Regions from separate parts of the Homo sapiens genome. Here region 1 is linked to region 2. Evidence: fine-mapped expression QTL. A gene starts in region 2. The other region holds a variant in brackets. All regions are shown on one strand. Distances are between the middles of the regions.

What was found. PIP is the estimated chance that this variant, and not a neighbour inherited with it, causes the effect. A credible set is the group of variants that fine-mapping cannot tell apart.
Region 1: its variant is the best candidate, but not a certain one, in a credible set for the expression of USP7 in whole blood (TOPMed, PIP 0.64).

Annotation. Positions count from the first base shown.
Region 1 is chr16:8,939,513-8,944,512 of GRCh38, reverse strand. The region is part of intron 1 of USP7 (ubiquitin specific peptidase 7); the gene reads left to right. Among named protein-coding and RNA genes, the nearest start is that of USP7-AS1, 21 kb to the left of the region's middle. The variant A/G (reference allele first, on the strand shown) is at 1,918.
Region 2 is chr16:8,961,371-8,966,883 of GRCh38, reverse strand. It overlaps USP7 (ubiquitin specific peptidase 7), which reads left to right and starts at 2,978. Exons shown (of 31, transcript NM_003470.3): 1 at 2,978-3,677. The coding sequence starts at 3,599. It overlaps USP7-AS1 (USP7 antisense RNA 1), which reads right to left and starts at 4,171. Exons shown (of 2, transcript NR_184341.1): 1 at 3,990-4,171; 2 at 1-131. RefSeq lists enhancers at 1-126, 127-750, 751-1,374, 4,071-4,607 and silencers at 538-832, 2,516-2,875.

The sequences.
Region 1 (5,000 bases), 22 kb after region 2:
TAAAAATCTCCTTTCTACCTCTGACCTCATCCCCAGTCCCCAAACTGGCTTGTCTTTTCAAATAATTTTTAGGGAAAAACAGACATTTAAGAGAGGAAGCTGCTACTTAGTTGCCAAGGTGTAAATGGACCTTCCAGGCCACAAATAGCCCAGGCAATTCCTTTGTTCCAGGACTCTGGCCTCCTCCTGACTCCAGGCGGGCAGCTGTTGCACCCCCTCTCTCAGCTGCCAAGGGGGTGTCAAGCCTCAGCCAGTATTTTGGCTGTGCTTTTTTTTTTTTGCACCTCTGTTGCTCTGCGTATTTTTGCTTTTGTTTTAAGAGTAATGCATATTCCCGGAAACATTCAAACATGCAAGCAAAAAGGCAAGAAGGAGAGTTTCTGTTCCTCAGAGGGAACTACCATTATATACTTGATGTATTATGGATATTGTCCCAGTTCATCCTTTTTTGTTTGTTTTTAATTTCAGAGACGGGGGTCTCCCTATGTTTGCCCAGGCTGGTCTTGAACTCCTGTATACTGCCTCCCCCGCACCTTATAGTTTTGCTTTAAAACCCAATTATTGTAGAATAAGCAATACAATAAATTTAATAGAGAAATGAAATTTTAAAAACCAAAATGTTTTCCTGTGAAAAATTAAACTTATGTTTAAAGTTGTGCATCAGTGCACGAAGCACTGTTTGTGTTTATCCCCCAGCGTGAATGCTCATTTTCTTGGGGAATGGGTTTTTGTGGTAACATTTCAAAATGAGTGAAAGGACATTCAACATTTTGATTTTAATACATATTGCCTTTGGGAAGGACAGTTGACTCTAGAAAAGTGTGTTCCCGCCAGCCATTCGACTCTACCCATATGCTAGACCTTCAGTACTGGTGGGCATCTCCATTGCTTTTCACCGTTAATCCAGCAGAGGAAGAGTGGTATCCCACGTTAACGAGGGAGGTGGAGCCTGTTGGTTAGTCGTTTGTGTTTCTCATGGCATTGGGGCCCTGCATTCTCGGTGTTGATCCTTTGGCTCTTGTGTGTCACAGATCTCCATCCAGGTAGGGGCATCCCTTGCCCTAACTGCATCTGTGCAGCTCGGTTCCGGCCGTGCGTGCTGCAACTTCTACTTGCATTGTGCTGCACAGTTGAGCAGATAATCCTGTTTCTTTTGCGGAGCAGACTATACATGTAGAAGCAGTACAGGCGTAATTATAAGCTCTTTACTTGTGCTGTATATTAAACCCCTCTCAGTGCACAACACAGCATTAAAACCAATCATCAGTGTTTGGACAGGCACTTTTGGTAGTTAGGATGATCTCTAGGGAACAGATGATTTTTACATAATGAAGCTAAACTGAAAGCTCCAAACAAATAGTTTTATTTAAGGATCACATATTATATGTGGCCTTCTTTGGGGCTTGGTTTTCATATAGCTAATTTACATCAGGATTATTTCAGCATATAGAGCAAAGCGTCAAAGTGGGTCCACTTTGAACACTCAGGCTCCACTGCCTTAAAGCCAGGTGGTCGGCTGACCTCAGGGCCCGCAGTGCCTGAAAAGGTACAGAACTGAAGGCAACCTAGCTTAGTAGGACAGGACTGTCCCCTGGAAATGGCTTTCCAGCCAGCCTAATGAGGGTGCATATGGCCAAATAACTGGAGGGTATAAAATCACAAAGTGGCTGGATGTGGTGGCTCATGTCTGTAACCCCAACACTTTTGGAGGCCGAGCTGGGAGATTGCTTGAGGCCAGGAGTTCAAGACCAGCCTGGACAACATAGTGAGACCCAGTCTCTACAAAAAAATACAGAAACTAGCTGAGTGTGGTGGTGTGCGCCTGTAGTCCCAGCTGCTCAAGAGCTTGAGGTGGGAGGATTGCTTGAGCCTGGGAGGTCATGGCTGCAGTGAGCCATGGTGGCACCACTGCACTCC[A/G]GCCTGCCCAACAGAGCGAGACCCTGTCTCAAAAATAAATAAGCCGTAAGCCAAATATTGTTAATAAGACCAGAGGGATTCAGAGTTACTTAGGAGGGCCCCCGTTTTAGAGTACACAGGGATCTACTTTGACAGGCTGGGGTGAGGTGCAGGTGGTCAGACCCTCACAGTGCTGCAGAACAGCAAAGGAGCTTGTCAGGAGACCCCTAGCATGTGATAAGGGTGGGACAGACCCCACTGCTTGATATTTGGCAAGGGCTGGTACCAGGATTCCCATGCTGGGGCTGTCTCAGGTCCGACAGACTCTCCACTGGGCATCCCAGTCACTCCGAGTGTCCCAGTACCTCCCAAGGACATGGATGGCTTCCTGTTCATTGGGTGGAGCACCTGCTGGGAGGGAACATTTTAGAGTGAAGTTAAGAATGCTTATCGTGGCCTTCAAGGCCCTCCATAGCTTTGGCCCTGCCCACCTTCCCCTTCCCACTGCCCTGTTCCTGTTCCTGTTGCGGTTTGCTCTACCTGGACTGCACTTTTCCATCTCTGGCCGGCAGGCTTCTTGCACTCTGTGCTTGCCACAGAATTTGCCACTCTGTGCTTGCCAGTTGTCTCCTCCTTCATGACTAAGGGACATGAACCAGCCCTGTGGCTGTCACTGTGTGCGTTTGCCCTCTATTGCAATGATCACCAAGGGACTTGCCTCCCACTTCCTAGTGAGCACCAGGAGACCAGGAGGCGTGTCCACCCAGTTCCCTGCCGAACCCTGGGCCCAGCCCATCTGTCAGAGACGGAGGCTTGGAAGGGTCAGTGGCTGGCCGGTGGTCTCACACCTGGGGAGAGGCAGGCCTGACTTCACAGCACGCACCACCCAACACAGCTGATCCTGGCTCTGCCCGTCCCCTCACTCCTCACCACACCAACACGGCCTGGTCTTTGTCTTTCCTGGTACCAAGCAAGGCTACAAGGTACTAGAAGGAAGATACTAAGCGAATTGGCAGACTAACTTATTTACACTCTGATGTTGCTATCGTGCGTGGACAAAAAAGCCGAAATGTGTTTTGGCTTAGGACAAGTTACTGGACATGTCGGTTGACCTGCGAGAAGAGGGTGGGCTCTGCTGAAATGCGGCTGGAGATACGTGCCTTTACCCCTCAGGTCCTTCCTGTCTGGAAAAGTAACGTATTAGGCTACAGAATAAGATGTTTTCTTTGTTAAAAAGTTGTTAACCGCAGACTGCAGGATATGTAGGGTATGTCCACCCTTTAGGGGATGCATGAAATCCTAGCTAATGGTAGCAGCTTAGAAAGGTGCTTTCAGGGTTATGTTTGAGCATAGTTAATTTTTCCACTTAGGTTCATGTTCTGGAATTGGCTCCTTCCAAGAGGTTTCAGGTATCCAGTCAGGCACAGAGGGCGTGAGGGCTGGGAAGTAATTTGGTGGTGGGGCGGGGGGTCCTCATGGGCATGGGGCATGGGCCCCATGTGAATTGGGCAGCAGCTCCTTGGCAAACATGGGCAGTGTGGCCTGGCCAGCACCTACCACTTTCCAATCAGTGGCTGGAAGGTGAACCTTGAGTCCCTGAGTGCTGGACGAGAAGAAGGGTCCTGGAGTGGGAGGAGAGAGAATTCTGTCCTGCTATTCCTGACTTTATTGTATCCTATTATGACCTTCACCCCCACTTGATTACCTCCAGGTTCTGGAGACTGTATATATTCCAGGTTCTGGACACTGTATATAAGTGATTCTCCTGCCTCAGCCTCCCAAGTAGCTTGGATTACAGGTGTGCGCCACCATGTCCGGCTAATATTCCAGGGCCCTACCTGAAGCCAGCTTGAGCTTCACCTAGGAGAGGCCTCGCAGAGGGGATTGATCTCACTCCACAGCCTCTGATCTTTCCCACTCCCTGGAAATGTCTAGAAGATGGCGGTCAGGAGCTTCTTAGGGAGTGTGGTAACTCCGTCTTTTTTGGCTGCCACCATCGTCCCTGTTTCTGTGGATGCCTCGGGAGCTTACAGGCTCCCACCTCTCCCTTTCTGATGCAGGGGCCATTGCTGTAACTGCCCCACCTCCCGCCCTGGGTTGCCTGGTCCCAAGGTAACCCCTGCCCTCCCACTCTGATCAACAGCCTTGATGGTGGCGCCCAGCTTCTTGGACATTCCTAGTACACCTTCTGCCTCTCGTTGTGTTCAAGAAGCCGAAGAGTTCTCCTGAGCACTGTGCTGGAGGCTGGTCCTGTGCTGGAGCTCACCAGAGCATTTGGCGGTGTTCTGGTTCTTGGATAACAGTGTTGACATTTGCCATTGGACAAAGCATGGTTAGCTACTTGCAGAGGCCAGATGTGTATATGACCTGGCTGTAGGATGCCTAGACAGGTGACCTGGCTATAGGATGCGTAGATAGGCAGCAGGATGGGAGCCACAGGACAGAGCTGTTTGTGAGAGCATCATTTGGAGTCACAAAAATACAGGAAAAACCTGGATGGAAACAGCCTTTTTTTTTTGGAGACAGAGTCTTGCTGTGTCACCCATGCTGGAGTTCAGTGGCATGATCTCAGCTCACTACAACCTTCGCCTCCCTGGTTCAAGCAATTCTTGTGCCTCAGCCTCCCAAGTAGCTTGGATTACAGGCATGTGCCACCATGCTTGGCTAATTTTTGTATTTTTAGTAGAGTCGGGGTTTCACCGTGTTAGCCAGGATGGTTTCAATCTCCTGACCTCGTGATCTGCCCTCCTTGGCCTCCCAAAGTGCTGTGATTACAGGCGTGAGCCACTGCGCTCGGCCAGAAACAGTCTTCTTTAGGGGAGTGGTTGATAAATCATGACAATGTTTTGGAGTTATTAAACTTACCCACGTAATGTGAATAGTATATGTGTTTTCCTTCATGAGAAAAAGTGCACGAGCAATGTACATGATATGTACATATGAACATTACATTGAGAATGCCTGGAGGTGAAACATTCATGGTTTCCTTCATGTTAGCACTCAGGGAAGGCCAGTTGATTTCTCCTTATCTATGTCTGCATTGTTGCTAGCTAACATTTGCTTGCTTGTGTTTACTTCTTTCAGAACTCAAAAGTAGAAATAAA
Region 2 (5,513 bases):
GCAGTAAACAGTTGCAGGGGTGAAAGCATTCATTCGGCAAATCGGCAAATCTTCACTGAGCATCCACTGTAAGCTTGGTGCTGTACTGAGGATAGAGCTGTAGACAAGACAATTTCTTCCTCAAGGTGCTTCTAGAAAGAGAGAGAGATATTGTGTGTTTTTTGTTTTTTGTTTTTTGTTTTTTTTTGACACAGAGTCTCGTTCTATAGCCCAGGCTGGAGTGCAGTGGTGCAATCTCGGTTCACTGCAACCTCCACCTCCCAGGTTCAAGCGATTCTCATGCTTCAGCCTCCTGAGTAGCTGGGATTACAGGCGCGCTACCATGCCCGGCTAATTTTTGTATTTCTAGTAGAGACGTGGTTTCACCATGTTGGTCATGCTAGTCTCGAACTCCTGACCTCATGATCCGCCCGCCTCAGCCTCCCAAAGTGCTGGGATTACAGGCGTGAATCACCGTGCCCGGCCAGATTGGTTTTGAACTCAGTGATGAGGATAAGGTTGGCCAATGTGAACTGACAGCCATATACATAACTTTCTGCCACCTCTTCCTCTGCCAGAAAGGCACTTTCTTCCCTCCTCCAAGCTTCCAGAATACTAGAGAGAAGGACTCTTTTGCATCTGAGCGCTGTTGATTAGCATTTGTGAGAATCTGTGTGAATAACAATACCTCTTCTTCAGATTCTGGGGGTGACCCAAGGGATTCCTTTGAAGTGACTGGGCTCTCCCCTGCTCACCTCTGTGGTCTGGCAGGAAATATACTGGTGAAAAACCTTCAAGCGTACGAAATGCTGGTGAGGGGGATCCAGTCACGCTTGAATCATATGTTCATTCAACCAGTTGACTAATGATTGATTAATTGATTGGCTGATTGAGATCGGGTTTCCCTATGTTGCCCAGGCTGGTCTCCAACTCCTGGGCTCAAGTGATTGATCCTCCCGCCTCAATCTCCCAAAGTGCTGGCATAAGGGGTGTAAGCCACTGTGCCTGGCCCATTCAACCAATATTTATTTATGTATTTATTTATTTTAGATGGAATCTCCCTCTATTGCCCAGGCTGGAGTGCAGGGGTGTGATTAGCTGACTGCAGCCTCCACCTCCTGGCTTCAAGCAATTCTCCTGCCTCAGCCTCCTGAGTAGCTAGGATTACCAGCGTATGCCACCATGCCCGGCTAAGTTTTTTGTATGTATTTTTAGTAGACATGAGGTTTCACCATGTTGGCCAGGCTAGTCTCGAATTCCTGACCTCAGGTGATCCGCCCACCTCGGCCTCCCAACGTGCTGAGATTACAGGCGTGAGCCACCGTGCCTGGCCCAACCAATTTTTTTTTTTTTTTTGAGATAGAGTTTCGCTCGTTGCCTAGGCTAGAGTGCAATGGCGCGATGTCAGCTCACCGCACCGCACCCTCCACCTCCCGGGTTCAAGTGATTCTCCTGCCTCGGCCTCCTGAGTAGCTGGGATTACAGGCATGCGCCACCACGCCCGGCTAATTTTGTACTTTAAGTAGAGACGGGGTTTCTCCATGTTGGTCAGGCTGGTCTCAAACTCCCGACCTCAAGTGATCCGCCCGCCTTGGCCTCCCAAAGTGCTGGGATTACAGGTGTGAGCCACCGCGCCGACCTGGCCCAACCAATTTTTATTGAGCACTTGCTGTGTATCCCAGGCATTTGTGATACAACAGTGAGCAAAACATTCTTTCGGGGGGAAGGGAGATGAACAGTACATAAATGGGAGAAAAATGCAGGGAAAGCGGGTATAGGGAGATGGAGAGAAGACAGGTACCACAATCTTCTGGCCTTGTTAGGGTGAAATTCTATTCTCCCCTGAGATGTGTAGAAATGTATATCGGTTTGCTCCATTTTTATTGACCCACACTGCCTTGATTAACTGGAAAAGTTGAGACCCTAATCATCAGTCTGTCAATGACTGAATGAGACAGGACAGGAGATATATTCACCAAATGTCTCCTGGAATAGGGAGGCCCCGGGTGAATGATCCCAGACTGGGTTGATAGGAAGGAAGTAAATTAATACCAAATGTGAAGGGTAGTGGGCTTGTTTTATTTTTATATTATTATTTTATTATCACTATTAGTTGAGACAGGGTCTCATTCTGTTGCCCAGGCTGGAGTGCAGTGGCGCCATCTTTGATCACTGCAGCCTCAGTCAACCTCCCAAGCGAACCTCCAGCCTCAGCCTCCCAAGTAGCTGTCACTACAGGCAGGAGGCACAACACCCGGCTAATTAAAAATACATTTCAAAAATATAAAAACAAAACCCAAAACCTTTGTAGAGAGGGTGGTCTCTTACTCTTGGCCTCAAGTGATTCTCCCACCTCGGCCTCCCAAAGTGCTGGGATCACAGGTGTGAGCAGCTGCGCCCCGCCTGGGGTTGCTCTTGAGGAGCCAAACTTTGCCAGATTAGGCTGACAGTGAGAAAATAAATTCTTCCACGGTAGATACTGGGTGAAAAAGTGCACGTCAGCGGGCAAGGGTAAGTAACGACAATAACAGGAACTTCTAGGCGCTGACCCCAAGCTCCCTTCCGGGCCCTATCCCGAGCAGTCCCCGGGCAACCTCCAGCGCTCGCCCCGGCGCGCTAGGCTGGGACCTGAACCCCGGCTGCCGGGTGGCTTCTGGGCCCCTCCTCATTGCCGCTCCTGGGTCTTTCGGGGTGTCCGGCTCCCCAGGATGGGAAGGATTCCGGTTCACCTCCGCAGGGCTAAGTCACCGGGCGGCCCGCCTCGGCCCCCAGGGCCCGGGGGCAGGGAGCGCCGAGGGTCCGCCGCGGGGCTGCGGCGCAGGCGGTGCCGGGGCGCGGCGCTGCGGGGCAGGCGGGCCTCGGCGGCGGCGGCAGGCGGGTCGCTCCCTGCTCCGCCTCCCGTGCTCCGCCCTGCGCTCCCGCTCCGCCCTCCGGCTCGGCGCCCGCCCGCTTGCTCTCCTCGCTCGCTCGCTCGCTCCGCGGCCCCCCATGCGGATGTGACATTTCACGCCGCCGCCATTTTGAGAGCGAGCCGAGCCGAGCTGCCGGGCGCCGCGTCCGCTGCCGGAGCCCCGACGACGACGCCGAGGAGGCGGAGGCCGCGGCTCTCGGAACGCGGCCGGCCCGTCGCCCGCCCGCTCCGCCGCTCCCGCCGGCCCCAGGGCCCGCAGGCCCGCCGCGGCCGGCCAGGCCTCCCGTCCGCCGCGCCCGGCCCGAGGCGGGGCTGACTCCGCGGCCCCCGACCGGCCGCCCTCCGCCCCCGGCCGGCCCGCGGCCCCGCAGCCCCGGCCCCGGCCCCGGCGGCGGGAGGCGGGCCCCGCGGCGGCGGCGGCGGCGGCCGCAGCGAGCGACGAGGCCGCCCGGCCCGGCCCGCCGGCCGCCCGCCCGCCTCGGCGCCGAGATTGGGCGAATCGCGAGCAAGTACGTGCGCGTCTCCCTGCCGCCGCCGCCGCCCGCCGCGGGCCGCCCCGGGGCCGCCGTCGCCGACGACGCGCGGGAGGAGGAGGAGGAGGCCGCCCCGCCGCCGCCGCCGCCGCCGCCGCCCCGGCTCGCCGCCGCCCGCCCGCCGGGCTCGCAGCCCCGGCCCCCGGCCGCAGGCGAGGCCCAGGCCGCGGCCGACATGAACCACCAGCAGCAGCAGCAGCAGCAGAAAGCGGGCGAGCAGCAGTTGAGCGAGCCCGAGGACATGGAGATGGAAGGTGAGGCCCGAGGGCCGGCCGCGGCGGGGCCGGGGGGCGCCTTTCATTGTGGCCGGGGGAGCCGCGGGAGCCACGCGAGGGGCTCGCCATCTTTAACCAGGCCCCGGGCGGCCGCCGGGCCTCGGCCTGGCCTCCCGGCCCCGGCCTGCGAGGCTGCAAAGTCATGCCGGGTCCGCGGGCGAGGGGCGGCCGCCGGGACCCCGGCCCCGTGCATTGTCCCGACCTCGCGTCCGCCGGGCCTCCGCGGCACAAAGCGCCCTGAGTTGTAAATTCGAGCGCTCAGGCAGCGGAGGGACGGAGGTGTTTTCTCACCCAGGTTGGGAGGCGGACTCCGGGGACCGTCCCCGTTCTGGGGCGTCCGGTTGGATCTGGTGTGGCTGGGGAATTCCTGACCTCCCCGGGCGCGGGGCTCGCCCGCACCTGCTCCGGTGCGCTCCCCCGGAGGGCGCGCCGTGGCTCGGAAGCGCTCTTCCAAATCACTTTCTAACAGCACTGCCTAGCGTCGGGCTTACGTTCGAAAATACCTGCAAGGAACGCAGATGTTGTCAGGTTTTGGACTGGCCCAGAGTTCTGACCCGGGCGCTGTTGGTTTCCGAATCCACCTGTTTTTCGGGGAGTTTGTACTTGGCAGTGTGTGGTGCAGCCAGCATCCGGCCAGGTGTGCGCTTGCAACCGTGCGAAAGCCCTGCCGCACATGGCTGCCTGCATCAGAATCAAACCTGACTCGAAAGGTAACTCGGTTTTCTGCCGATGTGGCAGTAATTTTCCAAGGCACTGTAGTTTGAGGTATAGAGTCTTGGTTGTAAAGGTTGGATGTGAAGACGCTGTAAAGAGAAGGGTGTTGGATTTAGGGAGTTGGTCGTTGGAAGGCACTTTTTCTCACGACCCATTTCACTGAAACAAAGCAAAGTCCAAATGGTCTTTAAAAAGTTTTCTTACCTACGTGACGAGTTCAGGCTGTCGGGAGTCAAATGGAGGCCACCTGAATGAAAACGGCGTGGAATGCTTTAGTTTTGCTTTTAGCAAGGGATCTTGGGTTGCCTCAATGAATGAAGCTCCAGGGGAGCTCAGGAAAAGCAGTATTTGTCCTGTGCGGTGGCTCCAAGTGTGGGGCGCTGCACACCGGTTGGTGGGAACACTTAAGCGTGACTGGTGTTCACCTCTGAATAGAATAACTTACTTCCAGTAATTGGATAGTCACTGAAAAAATGGCTGGCCAGGTTGCAAATGACAAAGTGGCTGGGATTCTGCAGTAGGCACTCCCCAGTGGTATTTATCAATGGCAGTAATGGGGGACAGAAGAGCGGAGTCCACGCCAAGGACTGGGTTATCTGTTTCACTTGGCCCCAGCAAAGCAGCAACTAAGAGCGCCTGTTATGTGTGATTAAACCAAATAGCTGAAAAGAAGTACTTTACTGAGGGAATTTTGTGTATTCCTTTTGTGCTGTATTTTGCAGCCCATCTAAAACATAAAAGAGGGTTGCTTTTCAGTTTCCTTTTCAAATGGTACCCGGTCAAGACAAATATCCAATAACACGAGCATATGGATTTCCCATGACATTGTCCTACCGCTTTCCAGGTGTTTTTGGACACTAGTGAGAATTAATAAACAGACATTACTGCAGAGCATGTGTGTTACAGACCTGTATCTTTGGGAAAATGACCAGGTCCACAAATTTCAAGGTATTTGCCCCCCCCCCCCTTTTTTTTTTTTGAGACGGATTTTTGCTCTTGTTGCCCAGGCTGGAGTGCAGTGGCGCGATCTCGGGTCACTACAACCTCCGTCTCCCGGGTTCAAGCGATTTTCCTGCCTCAGCCTCCCAAGTAGCTGGGATT